Linked DNA regions of Homo sapiens: region 1 is linked to region 2. Evidence: fine-mapped expression QTL. A gene starts in region 2. The other region holds a variant in brackets. All regions are shown on one strand. Distances are from middle to middle.

Region 1 (10,402 bases), 48 kb after region 2:
CCCCGAGCTCTCCCTGGCCTGACCCCAGGACTCAGACCCCGAGTCCTAGGGGCAGAATTGGGTGTGCTGCTTCCTCCAACCACCAATCCCCCCTCCTTCTCTTGAGACTTGCTCCTCTTCAGTGAGGTGGGGGCCCACCTGGAGGGAACCCTGCCTACTTCCAAGCTGGGAGAGTGCCGTCCAGCGGCCAGTGCAGGGGGCCATCAGCAACATTGGCCTGGCAAACCAGTGTGAAGATGGAAGGACACTGGGTGTCAGTGGGGCTGAGGTGTGCTGCTGGAGCAGGATCAGTTGGGTCAGTGGGTGGCCTCAGCATCGGAGGGGCAATGACAGTCTTGGGGAGGCATCTGGCTCTCAGCCTGGGGCCTCCTGCCCACTGTCCTTTGCAGCAGGGACCCCATGACTATAGGGGGCTGCAGTCAGTCCAGGCCATGCTTAGCCTTCCCTGGAACCCAGGCCCAGAGAGCTTAGTGTTTCTTTGGATGGCTCAAGTCTTTTGCTCTGAAGACAGGAGACAGAAGTGAGGACCTAAGCCTGCAGGTGCAATGATGGGGCAGAGGGCAGGCCCCACTCTCTTCTGCTCCTGGGGAAAAGGTGTGCAAAAGCAGAGGTCCTGTTCTATGCTGCTGGTGAAATAATACAAAACATCTCACAGAATAAGAAAGGAGGACAGACGTGGGGGGTGGAGAGAGAAAGGGAGGGCAAGGGAGAAGGGAAGAGAGAAACCTACAGAAAGGAAGAAACAGAGCAACAGGAATTAGAAAAGAAAGAGGAACTGAGAAAGAGGGAGACAACAAAGACAGGAAGAGAGCTGGCTGGAGGAAGCGGGAGAGAGGGCACAGGGAGCCAGAGGCCGTGGGTGTCATGTGTCTGAGGGCGATCGTGGGACTCTGCTGCTCCAGGCCGGGTGCTCAAGGGCTGGTCAATGGAAAAGTCATGTGGGTGGGCCCCTCCAGTGCTGGCCCCATTGGAGTCTGCAGGGAGGCCTGGGTGCCGCCGTTAGTACATGTCCTTGTAGATCTCCTGGAGCAGAGGGTGCAGCGAGGTCTCGGTTTCGGTCTTCTTGATCCGCTGCATCATCTGGGCGTGCTCGGTGACCAGTTGCCGCAGGTCAGCCATCTTCTGCAGCAGCTTGGGGAAGAGGTACTGGGCATCAGGGTGGTTGGCCTGCAGGTGGAATTCGAGGGCACGCAGGATGGTGTCCTGGATAGCCTCCACCCGTGGAACGTTCATGAGGCCTGGCCGGTCTGTGGGGACACAGGGCACGCCAGGGAGCTCAGAAAGGCAGTGGAGCTCCCCTACTTCCACCCCAAGAGGTGACTTGGCCCAGGGGACGGCAGGCCTCCTTGGCCGTGACAGACCAAGCCCTGTCCCATCAGCAATGCTCCACTGGGTGTTCTAATCTCCCTACCCCTGGTCTTAATCCACTTCTTTTGTTTTTTGCCAATTTGTCCCCACCTCCCCCCCGATTAGGCAACGTAGTATTGTGGTTAAGAGACTCAATGCTTAATTCAAATCCTGTGTCTGCCTGTGAGGCTATAGGCAGGTCATTCAGCCTCTCTGATGTGTAAAATGGAGACACAAAACATTCTTCCTGCACAGGGTTGTTGTGAGGATCAAGTGAGTCATCATCGATGAAAAGAACAGTGCCTGGCATGAAGTAAGCTCTAGACCACTGTTAGTTAGCATAGTTATTATTGTATTTATTGTGTTGGAATTTTAAAAATGCAGAAAAAATGCAGACAATTTTTCCACCCCACATTAACATGACAGCATACTGCCTGTTAGTCCTTTTCCTTTTTTTTGAGACAGGGTCTCACTCTGTCACCCAGGCTGGAGTGCAGTGGTGGGATTTTGGCTCACTGCAACCTCCACCTCTCGGGTTCAAGCGATTCTCCTGGCTCAGCCTCCCAAGTAGCTGGGATTACAGGCGCGTGCCACCACATCTGGCTAATTTTTTGTATTTTTAGTAGAGACGGGGTTTCACCATGTTGGCCAGGCTGGTTTCGAACTCCTGACCTCAAGTGATCCACCCGCCTCGGCCTGCCAAAGTGCTGGGATTACAGGTGTGAGCCACCACGTCTGGCTTAGTCTTTTTCCTGTCTCCACCTCTATCTACGTACATAATGAGATGGAGCTGATCCTGCATGCTCAGTCAGTGCCTTGCATGTTCCACTGCCAAGATCACAGGGACACTTCCCCACACTGTCAGAGCTCAGGCACAGTGCCCTGCAGTGAGGGCCAACCCCCAGGACGACTGGGTGTGCCAGGCCAGCCCACCTGCCCCACTCTCACTCACCTCCACACAGAATGATGGCCGCAATGAATAGGGCCAGGTCACTGTCATCAAGTTCCAGGGCGTTGAACTTGACAGCAAATTCAAACTTAGGCTCAATGATATCACTGAAGGGTTTGCGGAGGCTGCGCAGGAACTCACGGGTGACAAAGCCACTGCCGTTGGCTACCAGCAGCCCGTCCTTGTTGACGATAGAGGCCAGCATGGCGAAGATGGCCTCGTGCACGCCATACTTGAGAAGGGTAACCTGGTCGTTGAGGAAGAGGCTGCTGAAGCTGGGGATGCTCTTGGCGAACTCAGTGAGCTCCCGCACGGTCTCCACTGTGGTGCACTGGCAGCGGTAGAAGACGTGCACGCTGATCTCCTTGTAGGGAGGCAGGCCATTCACCAACTGCTTCCACACCAGCCCCTTCTCTGCCTGCCACAATGTCTCGATGTCGTGGATCACAAAGGGCTGAAAACCAGGCCCCGTTAGAGATCAGGCCTCGGGAGACCCCCACCCTGTGCTCCCCATGTCCCTTGCCTGCACCATGAAGTTGAGGGAGGGAGAAGGCCTGGCTCTCCCGGAGTCAGGCAGGCGGCAGTGGGACCCAGAGCCCAGGATGCTGCCAGGCCAAGCAGCAGCAACACTCACCGCCGTGTGGCTGGCTTTGCCGGTGAGGATGCTGCGGGCCTTCTTTTTGGTCATGTTGAAGTTTTTCAGGTAGGCATTGTAGATGTGCTTGGAGAAGGCCTTCAGGTCGGCCACCTGTGGGTTGTACTGGCTCCCCTCGTTTGCAGTCAGCCCTGCCACCAGCTTCCTCTTCTCAGCCTCCGGCATCCGACCAAAACGGATAGCTGCACAGGGAAGGGGGCAGTCAGCAAGGAGCCCAGGCAGGCCCCAGCACCTCTGACATCCCCATCCCTTTACAGGTGCATGGGCCAAATCCTTTTGGAGCCTAAGGCCCCCAGAAGCTCTAGAGTCAGCAAGGTAGGAATGATGGGGTGGCCCCTCCAGATCGCAAGCTCCACAAGATGTGATTTTTTTTTTTTTTTGGTGTATCTTTGCAAGAGCAGTGATTTTGTCTGTTTTGTTCACAGTGCCCAGCACACAAGGACTCTAACTTACTGAGTGACTGAGCTACGCTAGCTGGGGTAAGACAGACTTTGGTGACAAAGGCCTGGGCTTGAGTTCCAGCTCAGCAGTTTACTAGCTTTGTGACTTGGGGCAGACTCCTTCACTTTTCTTTTTCTTTTCTTTTTTTTTTTTTGAGACAGAGTCTCGCTCTGTCTCCCAGGCTGGAGTGCAGTGGCACGATCTCGGCTCACTGCAACCTCTGCCTCCCGGGTTCAAGCAATTCTCTGTCTCAGCCTCCCGAGTAGCTGGGATTATAGGCGCCCACCACCATGCCTGGCTAATTTTTGTATTTTTTTTTTAGTAGAGACAGAGTTTCACCATCTTGGCCAGGCTGGTCTTGAACTGCTGACCTCAGGTGATCCACTCGCCTTGGCCTCCCAAAGTGCTAGGATTATAGGCATGTGCCACCATGCCCAGCCTTTTTCTTTTTTTGTTTTGAGACAGGGTCTCACTCTCATCCAGGCTGGAGTACAGTGGCACAATCATGGCTCACTGCAGCCTTGACCTCCTGGGCTAAAGTGATCCTCCCGCCTCAGCCTTCTGAGTAGCTGGGACTACAGGTGCACGCCACCAAGCCTGGCTAAATTTTTTTTTTTTTTTTTTTTTTTTTTGTAGAGATGAGGTCTCACTATGTTGCTCAGGCTGGTCTTAAACTCCTGGACTCAAGCAATCCTCCTACCTTGGCCTCCCAAAGTGATGGGATTACAGGTGTGAGCCACTGCACCTGGCCACTTTTCTTTTTTAATCAGAAAAATGAGGCTAATACTTTTTAAAACTTACTGAGTTATTAGATCAATTAAATAAGAATCCTCACATAGTAAGCACTCAAAAATTGTTGTCATTAGTAATTGAGTAGGATACGAATTCGACTTCTCCTGGAGTTAGCGTAAGGAGAGGGATTCAGTCAGTTCCGAGATTTCCTAAGAAAGGAGTCAAACCCAGACCTGCCAGACCCCATTACCCAGGAGAGCCGCAAATGGAGGGCTCAGGTACTGCTACCCTCTAAGATGCAAGGCAGTTAGGGCATCCCTGGGTAAAAGCTGGCCAAGCAGCTAACCTGCCTGTAGAGATCACAAGAGGCTCTCCCCTGTCCTCTAGGGGTCTTACTCAGAGAGGTACTGAGGGGACAGGTGGGCTTTGCAATATCCTACCCTGGGGTCCGAAGACAAGGCTCTGCAGGAGGCCTGGAGCACAGGGCAGAGAAGGCTCTGTCTCCTGGGAGTGGGTGACCTCCAAGAAACTTCTGCCTGGCTCCTGGCAGTTGACAAATGTGGTTACTTACTGGTTACTGCCTGCCTTCTATAACCAAGAAGGGCCACCTGGCCTTGGCAGTAGCTTTCATGCTGTGTCAGGTCATCTGAGACAGGCTTGAGTTTCTGGGACTGGTGTTCCCCAAATTGTTCAAGCTGGTATCAATTATCAGTTCCCTTCTGGGCCAGAATGCGTAAACCTCAGGTATAGGGAGGTAAACACTACCCCACGCCTGGGACCCATGGTAGATGCTGGCAGTCTGAGGAAGTGGCAGGTCTTAGGCTCTAAGATCCAAGGTCCAGATCAGCAAAGCCAACAGCCAACAGCCATGGTGCTTACTGTGCGCCAGGCACTGCTCTACAGGTGCCCCCTCTAGGCTGCCCCAAGGGCTCCCTGGACCTTGGTTTCAGGCTGTGTGGAGCCAGCAGCCCGTGAGTTGCCCTGGTCAGCTCTCACCGTTGTGTGACATGCCCAGTGCCAGGCACTTCTGGAAGCGGCAGTACTGGCACTTGTTGCGGTTCTTCTTCTGAATCTTGCAGCTGCGCTCACACTTCTCGTACTCCAGCTTCATGCGGATCGTACGACGGAAGAAGCCCTGAAGCACCAAGAACAGGTGAGGAAAGGCCACCAGGAGGTGGGAGGGAGGCTGTGCCAAAGGGCCCGATTATGTATAAGGTGTAAACACTCCTGACATTTGGAAGTAACGAGAAGAAATTTTTTTGGAGGGGAGATGGAGAAGGAAAGTAATTCTAAAACTTTAATTAAAACTATTTTAGTTCAGGCACAGTGGCTCACGCCTGTAATCCCAGCACTTTGAGAGGCCGAGGTGGGCGGATCACCTGAGGTCAGGAGTTTGAGACCAGCCTGGCCAACATGGTGAAACCCCGTCTCTACTAAAAATACAGAAAAATTAGCTGGGTGTAGTGGCACACCCCTGTAATCCCAGCTACTCAGGAGGCTGAGGCAGGGGAATCGCTTGAACCCGGGAGGTGGAGGTTGCAGTCAGCCAAGATCGCGCCATTACACTCCAGCCTGGACAACAAGAGTGAAACTCCATCTCAAAACAAAACAAAACAAAATAAAACAAAACAAAACAAAAAAAAAACACAACTATTTTAAATGTCTAAAGAAGTCCTAAAGCTTCTTTGTTGGGGCTGGACACAGTGGCTCACGCCTGTAATCCCAGCACTTTGGGAGGCCGAGGTGGGTGGATCACCTGAGGTCAGGAGTTCAAGACCAGCCTAGCCAACATGGTGAAACCCCGTCCCTATTAAAACTACAAAAATTGGGTCAGGCACAGTGGTTCACACCTGTAATCCTAGCACTTTGGGAGGCCAAGGCAGGTGGATCACCTGAGGTCAGGAGTTCGAGACCAGCCTGGCCAATGTGGTGAAACCCCATCTCTACTAAAAATACAAAAATTAGCCAGGCATGGTGGCATGTACCTGTAATCCCAGCTACTCTGGAGGCTCAGGCAGGAGAATCTCCTGAACCCGGGAGGTGGAGGTTGCAGTTAACTGAGATCACGCCACTGCACTCCAGCCTGGGCGACAGATCGAGATTCCATCTCAAAAAAAAAAAAAAAAAAAAAAAAAGCTTCTTTGTTAGTTTGGTAACATAAGATTGTCTCACGGCTAACTTGATTTCTTCATAAATGTATCTGGTTCTGTGTATTTGTGAGGTGGTGATTCAATAAAATAATCTGTGAGATT[T/C]TGATGGGTGTGAAGTTAGGAAGGACCCACAAATATCACTGGAAAAACAAATGTCTGTCCTTTTTTCTCAGAGCCCGCTTTGAGCCTTGAGAAACAAGAAACCCAGACCTCAGGTAAGACGATGGCTCAGCCCAAGACCCTCATTCTGCCCTAGCTGCCTGGTCCCCAGGGGGACACAATCACCCACAGAGCTGGGTCAACACAGGTGCCCAGCAGGGTAGGCTTGACAAGGGAACCCCCTCTTCTCCTGCAGTGCCCAGAGCTGAGGTCTGGAGCACAAGGGCCTGGCTGCCTCCTGGGCAGGAATTCTGCAATAGGTACAGTCAGGGCCCCACCCCAAGGCAAGGAAAGCTTTGTGGAGGGTCAATTCACCATGTGACCACAGCCTCAGTGGCCAGCCACCGCTCCCCCCAGTCCGTACCTTGCACCCCTCACATGCATGAACACCGTAGTGGAAGCCCGATGCCTTGTCCCCGCACACCCGGCACTCCATGTTGAGGCTGCCGCATGAGGCCCCGTCACAGCCCATCTGCAGTTGGTCCAGCAGTGAGGGTGGCGAGGAGCTCCGGGAGAGGTCTGCGGACACACGATGGAGGGGCAGCTCCACATGCTGCCAGGCCTGGAAGCCAGGGCGTGGGAACAGCCCCACAGCCCTCGCCTCAGCCACTTAACAGCTGTGTGGCCTCAGGGAGTCAACCTTTCTGAGGACCAGTTTCTTCACCTAGAACAGGGGGTACTGACAGCTTCTCTGGGAGGATGGGCAAAAAGTCTCCACAGCATTTCTCCCAGAGCCTAACATACAGAAGATGTCCAGTACACAGCAGCTATTACCATCAGGGCTGGGTCAGAGGCTTCCTGGGCTGAACTCACCATGGGGTAGCAGTGGGGAGGAGGATGGCTGTGTTTTGGGAGGAAAGCAAGAGAGAGAAAGCAGACAGAGGGTCTTAGCCCTTAGGAAGCAGCTCTCCTGGTTCAGAGGTTGCCACCGTGTGGCCCATATGGAGATGTGTGCAACGTGTTTTGCAGAAACTGCAGGACTGTAGACCTCTGCAGAGCTAGCCTCCCCACCATCCCCCACAGGAAGTTCTATTCTTGCATAGACTCCAGGGATGCTGTAAACAATCTCTTCAAGAAGCTCAAGTTCATTCCCATGAAAACTTCTTGAGTAGAACAGCTTAGGTATCAGTCATATTGATTAAGCAACACACTGAATTTCTCCAAGTTTTTCTATCAGACGTATAGATGTTTGAACCACGGGGTGTTGAGTGTGTTGGCGAGAAAGGCAGTTTGCTAAGGCTATGACTTCAGGATATATCTGCTGTCAGATGATTTCATAAGAACTGCTAGGATTCTCTTCCCAGTGCCCTTTGGACACTCGGAAATGATCTCTTCATCTTGGAAAGGGGACCTGAACTGAGTCTCAGCTTCCTGACTCCTAGCCCAAAGCTGGTTTCATGGCCCCACATACCAGCTGTCCTACCTCTGCCATGATGACCGTCCAACCTCTGCACTCTTCTCTAATGACTGAGCAACCTCCCCAAAAGCAGGTGCCAAACCTCCAAACCAGAGAATCAGCCATTTTGAGTAGAAGGGGATGTTGGGGGACCGAAGCCACAGAGATAAACCCAGGCTAATGTTTTCCAGGCCTGTGGTAATACCTGTCTACTACACAGGCCAAGCAACTTTGATTTCCCCACCATGGGAGTACCTATCCACCTGCTACCAATCAAAGTGCACTCCATCCTTCCCACATGGTCTCCCCACTCCCCCAGCTTCCCCTTGGGTCCTAGGAGTGGCAGCAGGAAAGCCTGCTTCCCCTATCCTGACCACAGGAGGGGGAGCACAAGAAGCACCCAACTGTGGCAGAGAGGACCCAGTGGGCTGCTCCCCTCCTGGCTGGTGAGGTTTAGGGGTAACACAAGTCTCTGGTTCCTAAAATGGCCTGTCTTGTCCTGGCACCTTAGCTCCCAACTTCAGTCATTCCAAGGTGTTGTAACTGTTCCTCTTGACCCAGACTGGGACAGTGGGCTCCCTACATCTCTCGGGCCTGGGAGGGAAAAGCTGTGCTCTGGGAGGGTGAAGCCGCTTTGGTCTTCTCAGTAGCCTTTGTCACCGCCTGACATATCCTGTGTGTGTTCATTGTTGGAAGCCACCCACTAGACAAAAGGGCCACAAGGGCAGGAACTTTGTCCACCAGGGCACCAGCGTGGTCAGACACTGAGAGCTGTGTGAGGTGCTGGGCACGCAGCAGGCACGCGATAGCTCTCTGCACATCTGGCAGTCCTCAGGCTGCCTGGGTGTCCTGACTGCAGCACCAACTGGCTGATGGGGCTGGGCAGGACCTGCCACTCCTGGAGGCATTTATAACAGGGACAATAAAACTCACAGCACCGGATGTTGGAAGAAAAAGAGATAACATGACAGAAACCCTTTGTGGATGCCTGTGCAGATGCTGGGGCAGGCAGGGTTTCTGGCACTTCCTCCTTGAATCTGTGCAGTCCGTGAGCATATGCTCGTGTTGGGGCATTTCTTGTAATTTTGTCTTTGTGGCCTGCACGTCTGCTTCCTCTGCGAGACTCTGCATGTCTCTACTCACGTTCCCTTTGGATCTCTGAGCTCACTTCCACCACCGAGTCTTGTCCACAGTGGCCAATACCCTCAGATTATTCACACCTCCTGGAGGTGCCTTTCTCATCCTCCCTGTGGCCATGGAAGGTCAGCAGGTGTCTAGTCATTTGGTTTCTGTTGGCACTGCACGTGACAATGTCACCCTCTGTGTTCACTCAAAAGACACATGATAAGCACCTTCTATATGCAGGACAGGACCTAGACTCTATCCTCAAATAGCTGAGGTAAGAAAGAGGTAACAGCAGGGCTGGGTGTGGTGGCTCACGCCTGTAATCCCAGCACTTTGGGAGGCCGACGCGGGCGGATCACGAGGTCAAGAGATTGAAACCATCCTGGCCAACATGGTGAAACCCCATCTCTACTAAAAATACAAAAATTAGCTGGGCGTGGTGGCACATGCCTGTAGTCCCAGCTACTCGGGAGGCTAAGGAAGGAGAATCACTTGAACCCGGGGGCAGGGGGGCGGAGGCTGCAGTGAGCTGAGATCGCGCCATTGCACTCGGCTGAGTGTGGTGGCTCACGCCAGTAATCGCAGTACTTTGGGAGGCCAAGGCAGGAGGATTACCTGAGGCCAGGAGCAACATAGTGAGACCCTGTCTCTATAAAAAGTAAAAAAAAAAAAATAGTTGGGTGTCGTGGCACCTGCCTATAGTGCCAGCTACTGAGGAGGCTGAGGCAGGAAAATCCTTGAGCCTAGGAGAGCTGTGATTGTGCCATCGTATACCAGCCTGGGTGATAAAGCAAGACTGTCTCTACTTAAAAAAAACAAAAGGCCAGGTGCAGTGGCTCACACCTGTGATCCCAACACTTTGGGAGGCTGAGGCGGGAGGATCACTTGAGCCCAGGAGTTTGAGACCAGCCTGGGCAACATAGTGAGACCCTGTCTCTATCTCTATAAAAAATTTTAAAAACTAGCTGGGTGTGGTGGCACATGCCTGTAGTCCCAGATACTTGGGAGGCTGAGGTGGGAGGATTGCCTGAATGTGGGAAGATGACTTGAGCCTGGGAGGTCCAGGTTGCAGTGAGCTGTGATTGCACCACTGTACTCCAGCCTGTGGTGACAGAACAAGACCTTGTCTCAAAAAAATAAATAAACAAATAAATAAACAAGAAAAACAAGGAAAGGTAAGGTGTAACTTAACCTACTGTAACTCACTTGTGCCTACAGGAAAAAAATAAAATAGAAAAAAAAAGAGAAAGAGATAAGAAAACTAGAACATGAGACAGAGTGGAGCAACGCCAGGTAAGGGGCAGTAAGAAGTGCAGGATATTGGAAGGAGCCATCACTCACGCATGTGACTGTCACGGAAGGGGACTGCTTCCCTCTCTGCTGAAAGAAAGGTGATGGCAGAATTCTTCTCATACTAGGGGCTGGGTTCTGAAGGTTCCACCACTTCC
Region 2 (8,000 bases):
GGTCGCACATTGACTGAGATGGAAGCTCCAGGGCCCCCTGATAAGCCAGCACAACACAGACCAAAGCCTAGGGGTTAGCAACTGACCCTAAGTGACTCAAGGAGGGTAAGCGCTCTCCCCAGGTGACAACTGCTGACCTACCCATGTCTGCCTGGAAAGCCCTGCTGTCCTGAGCCACCTGTCCACAGTAGGGACAGACCACAGTCCTTAGAGGGCTGGGGCAGAGATAGTTCAAGACTTTCAGCGGCCGGGCACAGTGGCTCACACCTGTAATCCCAGCACTTTGAGAGGCTGAGGCGGGTGGATCACGAGGTCAGATCAAGACCATCCTGGCTAACATGGTGAAACCCCGTCTCTACTAAAAAAAAAAAAATGCAAAAAATTAGGCAGGTGTGGTGGCACACGCCTGTAGTCCCAAATACTCAGGAGGCTAAGGCAGGAGAATAGCTTGAACCCGGGAGGTGGAGGTTGCATTGCAGTGAGCCGAGATTGCACCACTGCACTCCAGCCTGGGTGACAGAGCTAAACTCCGTCTCAAAAAAAAAAAAAAAAAGCTTTAAGCAAACATTTTCCCAAAGAGGCTGTTCTAGCTTTTTCTCCTGCAGTTAAATATGGGTGAACTGATTGGACTCACTTGTCACAGGATGAAACTGTATTTGCTCTAAGGGTGGCAGGCTAGAGATGAGACTCTAGAATAAAGGGTTAAACAGAATGGGGATGACCCAGTTAAATTTTAATTTCAGATAAACAGATGATTTAAGTATGTTCCATGCAATACTAAGGACATCCTGCATTTTTATTTGCTAAATCTGGCAACCCTCTAGAATCTAGTCTTCTAGGTCATTCTAGTCCAACCTTCAAGTTAACAGATCGGGAGAACTTGAGACATGTTAAATGTACTTCTCACAGCCAGTCACTGCCAACATCAGGATTCCAACCTGGTCTGCCTGACTCCACGTTGTGTGCCTGGTATCCCACTAGGAGCCCCAAACTGTCACCTGCTGGATGGGTGGGAGGGTACCGAGCCCCAGTAGGTAGGAGGGGTCCAGGAAGCAGAAATTCCTGGAGGCTGCACTGGACACCGATTACATCTGTGGGCGATTAGCACACGAGCCTTCAGATAATTGCTTTTGCTTTAAGCTGAAGTTTCCCTTTTCCTTCTGATTGCAAAGATCACAGGAGGTTCAGAAAATACAGAAAAGCCCAAAGAAAAGAAAAATAACCACAACAAGTAGCTGGCTGGACCTGTCTTGAGAACCAAAATTCACTGCTCATCCTCATTAGGTTTTATACCTTTCTTACCAAGAAAGTGCTGTTAACTTCTTAAAAGCTAAAAAAGCAAAAGCTGCTCAGAGTAAAAACCCTGTGTTCTTCATTTCAGGGACAGGGAAGGCTTGTTTTGAGAAATGCAGCATCTCCCCCGACCCCCCGACTCCCACACATACCACCGATGGACTCTTGCTGTTGCCCAGGCTAGAGTGCAGTGGTGCGATCTCAGCTCACTGCAACCTCCACCTCCCAGGTTCAAACAGTTCTGCCTCGGCCTCCCAAGTAGCTGGGATCACAGGCGTGAGCCACCGCACCCAGCCAAAATACAGCATTGTTAAGCACTGCTTTTATGCTTTAAAATAACCGTTCTCAGCCGGGGGTGGTGGCTCACGCCTGTAATCCCAGAACTTTGGGAGGCCCAGACGGGCGGATCACAAGGTCAGGAGATGGAGACCCTCCTGGCTAACACGGTGAAACCCTGTCTCTACTAAAAATACCAAAAAACTAGCCGGGCATAGTGGCGGGCGCTTGTAGTCCCAGCTACTCGGGAGGCTGAGGCAGAATGGCATGAACCCAGGAGGCGGAGCTTGCAGTGAGCCCAGATCACGCCACTTATACTCCAGCCTGGGGAATGGAGCGAAGACTCAAAAAAAAAAAAAGCAGGGATGAACTTGTTCCCCTATTTACCAAAGTCAAACTAAGCTCATTTTAGTCAAAGGTTAAAGCAGTACTGGGTGCTAGAGGCAAGAACTGCCAACAGGGAAATGCCTCAGAAAAGGAGGGGGCTTAGCCTGCCTGGGGCAAGGACCTGGAATACTGTTAACAGGATCTGGCTGGGGATGGTGACTCACACCTGTAATCCCAGCACTTTGAGAGGCCGAGGCAGAATTGCTTGAACTGGGACCCACAGATTGAGATCGCACCATTGCGCTCCAGCCTGGGCTACAAACTCCATTTAAAAAAAAAAAACAAGGTCCATTAATTATACTTTTGTACTGGTTTGCTGTGCCTTGTTTTCCTTAACATTTACTCATTACTAACCCAAAGCATAGGATACTCCACATGTGGTCTTCTTAACACAGAAATGCTGACTAAAATCCTTATTTTAAATTTACATGGACCAATCCTGTCAAAAAGCTTCAATGCCGTTAGCAACCCTATCACATATGCAAGACTGCCTGATTTTGATGGCAGAAAAACATCCTCTTCCCTATAGTACCCAACTATCCATCATCAAAGTGACAAACTACACAACTAGCCATCAGCAGTGCCAAGGCCCTCACTTGTCAGCTGACAAACCACCCCCCACCCTCAATCACAGGCAGACAGAGGGAACTGGTAATAGAATTTATTCAAATGTGCCTTAATATAGGCGCTGGGGCTTGCCCATGGTGCTCTTGATATATAAGGCCCGGACATTCTGCCAGTTTTTCTTGAGCAATGACACCAAGAAGTTGACAGCCAGGTGAATGTTATACACAAGCTCATCGTCTGTCATCTTCACGTGACCAACAGCTACAGCCAGACATAACACCTGGGAGGAGGGAAGAGAGGATCAAGTCAGGTTGGTGGACGAATAGCAGATGGCCTGTCCTTCCTCCCCCAGTGGCCTGGTGAGCAGGTACTTGGACCCGGGCCAAGACCAGGGTTACTCCAAAAGTTTCAATCCTGGTGGGTGCTCTTACTGGCATATTTAGAGACTTGGATAAGATTTAGACCCTGCCAACACCTTCACCCATAGCAACCCGCCAGACCCACTCACCTTCTTCATTTGGAACTTGATTGTGGACTTCACCTCATCCACTTTGGCCACCATGTTTTCGTTGTGTGTGAGCAGGGAAGGGAACTTTCCTGCCTTATTTAAACCTGGGCCGAGGATTCGTGGAATCTGCTTGATCAGAGACTCTGAGGCCAAAAACGCATCATACTTCTTGGCTGATAGAGAGAGGAAGCCATTGGCATTGCTTAGAACCTGGTCACCAAGGCACACCTCAAATGTGGCAGGCCAGAAACGCACTTGAATCAATCATGTAAGTGACCTCCAAGCAGCACCCTCTCTAAGACCCCGCCTCAGTCTTTTCCCTAGCCCAAACGGTTTCCAGAAAGTCCTCTGGACCTTCACTGGTCCCAAAACATGCTCTCAGAAAACCAGGCTGACCCATGATCCATGGCATAACCGCTGTACAACGGATGCTCTGGTCAAGACTGCCTGGGCTCGAATTCTGCCTATTTCTTAGCTGTGGACCCTGGACACGTGACAACTGGGAATGTCTGCTTCCTACCTGTAAAAGCAGTCTAATGCCACTGCCTAAACAACGCAGCGTAAAGATTTCCAAATCATAGTTCACCAGCACCTGGCTGGTCAACTTACAATGCCTGGCCTCCCTCATCAACTGGAATCCTCATAGCAATACAAACATCAAACCACCCCAAAGCTAAAACAGCACTCAGGCAAGCTAGGCAACCACCGCCGATCCTTTGCTATTCTAGGCCCCTCATCATTTAAAAATCGAAAATGGCAGAAAAGCCTTTCTACCGCCCCCACCACACATCTCACATGCAAAACCACAGCGGCCGGACTCACCCAGCTTCTTGACCAGTTTTTTATTCTTGTTGAGTTTTTTCAGCGCCTCGATGTCCATGTGGGGGATATCCACGGCCTTAGCCTCGTCACAGTGCTGCTGGTCCCCCAGGACACACACAGAGAACTTAGGGCGGGGAGTGGACTTAAGCCTGCGTTTTGGGGGACAGCACCAACAGGTTACGCCTAGCCCTGGGTCCCAAGGGCCGGTGAAGGGTCTGGGACCGCAGCAGCCACCGAGCCTTACCCGGAGCGTTCACATTCACCAGCAGCCAGCCTGGCTTCTCAGGCTGGCCGGCGGGCTCGGCCGAGGCCTACCCACGCCTCCCCTCATGTTTTAAGACCCAGGGTGGGGGTCCGTCCAGCCGCGCCTGCCCGGAGCAGGGGGTCTGAACTACCCTAGCACATCAGTACCGACGTGCCCGCCTCCGGCTCAGCGGGAGCCTGCAGGGGAGGGGCAAGCACGGGGGCACTGAGGGCTGGGTGGGATCAGAACGGTGCCAACCTGACGGTGCCCGAGAAGCGCTTGTCCTTCTGGGGATCATAGTTCTTCAAGCTGATCTGCAACTCCACCGTCTCCAGGAACCTTCGAGAGAGGAGGGGGGTTAAGCACCCGCCGGCCCTCGCCACCCGCGCCGTGCCCCAGGGTCGGCACTCACTTGCGGCGCTTGCGCTGGTTCCCGTGCAGGACTTCCCGCACCGCCTCGTACAGGGTGTCGCGAGAGACTTTGCTGCTGCGGGAGAGAAGCGACAGGGCGCTCAGGGCCGCGGAGTCCACACGCTCGGACTGCCTGGAAGCCTCCGAGGTCTAGGCTTCGAGACGGGCGGGCGGCCCACGGCGGACTCCCCCGTAGATTCCGGACACCAAGTAGAGCGACGGGAGCTCAGACCCAGACCCAAGCCCCGGTGGAAGAGGGAGGCTCTCAGTGATCGGACCTGGTAGGAAGGGCGACCCGCAGGCCGACCCGCCTTGAGAAATGCCCCGCGGCGCAGGTGGCGCAAGGGTCCGCGGCGCGGCCTACAGGATCCGAACCCTCGGCGGGGCACCTGAAGGCGCGGATGAACGCGGATAGGGCTTTCAGGACCAACTCACCTCATGGCTTCTCACGCCGCGCTAACCGGAAAAGAGACTAGCATGTCTTGCGCATGCGCTCAAATAGTGGCCCTGATCTCGCGATAATGCTTTGCTCCTCGGTCCTACCCGCAGAGCGGTTGGGTGGGCCAACCCCGAGAAGCGCGGCCTTCTCTGGCCGCTGGGGGGCGTCGCTGGGCCGCTAGGCCGGCGCGGTAACCCACAGAGTTGTCGCAGTCCTGAGCGCCCCGCGGTCCCCCGGTAATGTGCCGATTCGCGCCCGCTGCTGCTGGACCCCTAGGGAAGCGGCTGGGTTCGGGGCTCGAGCTTCGGTAGTCACACGTACTGGTACAGCCCAGTGATGTTCACTGACAGCGTGGATTCCGGCACGCTTGTCCCTCAAACCCCTCTCCCCTCGCGCCCTCCGCACCAGCTTATGTTCTCAAAAGGAAGCCTGGCCCGACCTCCCTCCCTCAGCACCTTGCTCTAACGTGGACTCGTGGTAAGGGAAGTGTCCGGAAAGTTCTGTTCCTGTCCTTTCAACGCCTGCAGAGGGGAAGAGCTGGGAAAGTCCTTAAGTGAACTTTCACTTGATAGTTAATTTGATAACATCTACGTTTTAAGTGTGACTGCTATGAATAAGGCGTCTAGCCAGGTGCTACAGGAATACAAGGATGTAAAACAGGCACACAGCACTGCACACCCATAAGGTGTCTTCTCTGCTCTTTCCTCTGTCCAATGGGTCTCATCCTCTTAGCCACAGTAACCCCCAGAGCCCTTCAGATCTCTCCTCGGATTCATCTGCCCAAAACCCTTCCCGAACTCCAGACTGAGTCACTCCCACCTTTAAGATGCCCATTCTCACCTACCCCCCTGCCTGGTGGGGGCAGCTCCTATAGGATGGGGTGGGTGGTATTACACATTATTTGGCCCTCAGAGGGTGAATAAGATACCCTACACCCTTCCCCTCACCAGGAAAAAGATGTTCCTTGTCATTGAGCAGGGAAGTGGAGGGGGTGCGGATGGGCTCAATACCCAGAATTCATGGGAAGGAAGGTACTGCTTCTAATAAGACATTGGCCAGGCGTGGTGGCTCACGCCTGTAATCCCAGCACTTTGGGAGGCAGGCGGATCACCTGAGGTCAGGAGTTTGAGACCAGCCTCGTCTCTACTAAAAATACAAAAATGAGCGGGTCATGGTGGCATGCGCCTGTAATCCCAGCTACTCAAGAGGCTGAGGCAGGAGAATCGCTTGAACTGGGGAGGCAGAGGTTGCAGTGAGCCGAGATCATGCCATTGCATTCCAGCCTGGGCGACAGTGCGAGACTCAGACTCGAAAAAAAAAAAAGAAAAAGACATTATTGAACTTGCTTTTATTCAACACCATTGATAAATTATTCAAGTCAGAAACAAAAACACAGAAGGTCATAATATACATGAGCACAAGAGCTTCATCTGAGCCCACTGGTACCCCAGACCTCCTGGAGCATCCCATGCCCACTCTGGGTCGGCTTGATCCTACTGAGCCCTATCGGAAAGTTTGTCCCTGCAGCCTGAGAATTGATGAGGAGTGTGCCTGGGGCCAGCAGCCTTTGGAAATATAGCTCTGGCCTGGTGTGGTGGCTCACACCTGTAAATCTCAACACTTTGGGTGCCAAGGCAGGAAGATCACTTGAGCTCAGGAGTTCAAGACCAGCCCTGACCAGCATATTATCTACAAAATAAAAAATTAGCTGGGCATAGTGTCATGTGCATGTAGTCCCAGCTACTTGGGAGGCTGACATGGGAGGATCGAGCCTGGGAGGCAGAGGTTACAGTGAGCCATGATCAATCGCATCACTGCACTCCAGCCTGGATGACAGAGCAATACCTTCTCTCAAAAACAAAAGAAATGAAAAAGAAAATATAGCTGAGCTCCCTTAGCCCAGGAGCCTCCCTGCTGGCTGGGAAGCCAATATTCCCTATGCAGCCTGTAACAGGGAGGCAGTTGCAATCTGGGATGGCCAGGCTCAGCCTTTATCCTCAGGCTAGGGCTCAAGACAAGGTGGTGAAGAAAGAAATGCCCTTCAGGAAGCTGGTGATGGAGCACCAAGAGGGTGGTCCCTTGGTGGATGGTCAGGGGCCCAAATGTTTCAAGGCGGCCTTCAGGGACTTCCTCAGGAAGGTGGTGTTAGGTTCTAGGGCCATAGCCAGGCCCAGCCTCTGGGTCTCAGTGATCTGGGGAGAAGGAAAAATCATGTCAGGACTCCAGCAACTGATCCCTCCCGTCTCCCGACTACCCCAGGGGCTCTATTGAGGAGAGAGGAGGCCAGGAGGATGGAAAGAGGAGGAGACTCCTGAGCAATCTAATCTCATTATTTCACCATGGTTAACGAGGTAGACCTGGAGCCAAATACTAGCTGCACAATTTACTAAGCCGGCCACATTAGTAACAGTTGACAATCATTGTGTGTTTACTATGTGGCAGCACTTTATATGCATCAATCCATATACAAACATACATATACATCATATATATGCATTGCTGTATATAATCCTCAAGACCCTCCCATTTTACAGAGGAGAAAACTGAGGTTCACAGACACTCTACTGTGACAGCTACCTTCCTTTTGGATCACACTTTCTCTTTCTGCCCTGTTGCTACAACCTCCTGACAGGTCTCAGGCCCTGTATCTTCACCCTCCAATCCCACTCCTCACAGAAGCCAGATGCTTCTTAATAGTACAGATCTGATGAAGTTACTCCCAGGTTGAAGGCCCTTGAATGACTCCTGATGCCTCACATTGGAGGTCCTTCTGCCTAGATCTCCAGAGGATTCAGGAGCTCCCCTGAAACTGTGCAACAGAAGCATGTTCATACTTCCATCTTTCTGGGAGGGTCTACATCAAATCATCAAATGGGCCTGTAACACCCCCGACATAAGGGTACAAAGGCAATAGCCCAGAATACCTGACTTTCAAGATAAAGTTAAAAATAAAGCTCCTGGCTGGGCACCATGGTTCATGCCTGTAATCCCAGCACTTTGGGAGGCCGAGGCAGGTGGATCATGTGAGGTCAGGCATTGGAGACCAGCCTGGC

What was found.
Region 1: its variant is fine-mapped to the expression of RPL10A in whole blood (TOPMed, PIP 0.99).

The regions. Positions count from the first base shown.
Region 1 is chr6:35,416,677-35,427,078 of GRCh38, reverse strand. PPARD (peroxisome proliferator activated receptor delta) reads right to left here. Exons shown (of 8, transcript NM_006238.5): 4 at 6,798-6,952; 5 at 5,121-5,259; 6 at 2,931-3,133; 7 at 2,300-2,750; 8 at 1-1,247. The coding sequence ends at 1,000. Among named protein-coding and RNA genes, the nearest start is that of FANCE, 30 kb to the left of the region's middle. The variant T/C (reference allele first, on the strand shown) is at 6,377.
Region 2 is chr6:35,465,383-35,473,382 of GRCh38, reverse strand. It overlaps RPL10A (ribosomal protein L10a), which reads right to left and starts at 4,982. Exons shown (of 6, transcript NM_007104.5): 1 at 4,944-4,982; 2 at 4,510-4,584; 3 at 4,356-4,436; 4 at 3,854-4,002; 5 at 3,032-3,204; 6 at 2,603-2,803. The coding sequence starts at 4,948. The coding sequence ends at 2,633. FANCE (FA complementation group E) reads right to left here. Exons shown (of 10, transcript NM_021922.3): 10 at 6,281-7,139. The coding sequence ends at 7,038. It overlaps MIR7111 (microRNA 7111), which reads right to left and starts at 2,875; the gene lies at 2,804-2,875. RefSeq lists enhancers at 4,253-4,352, 4,413-4,482, 4,660-5,216, 5,493-5,542.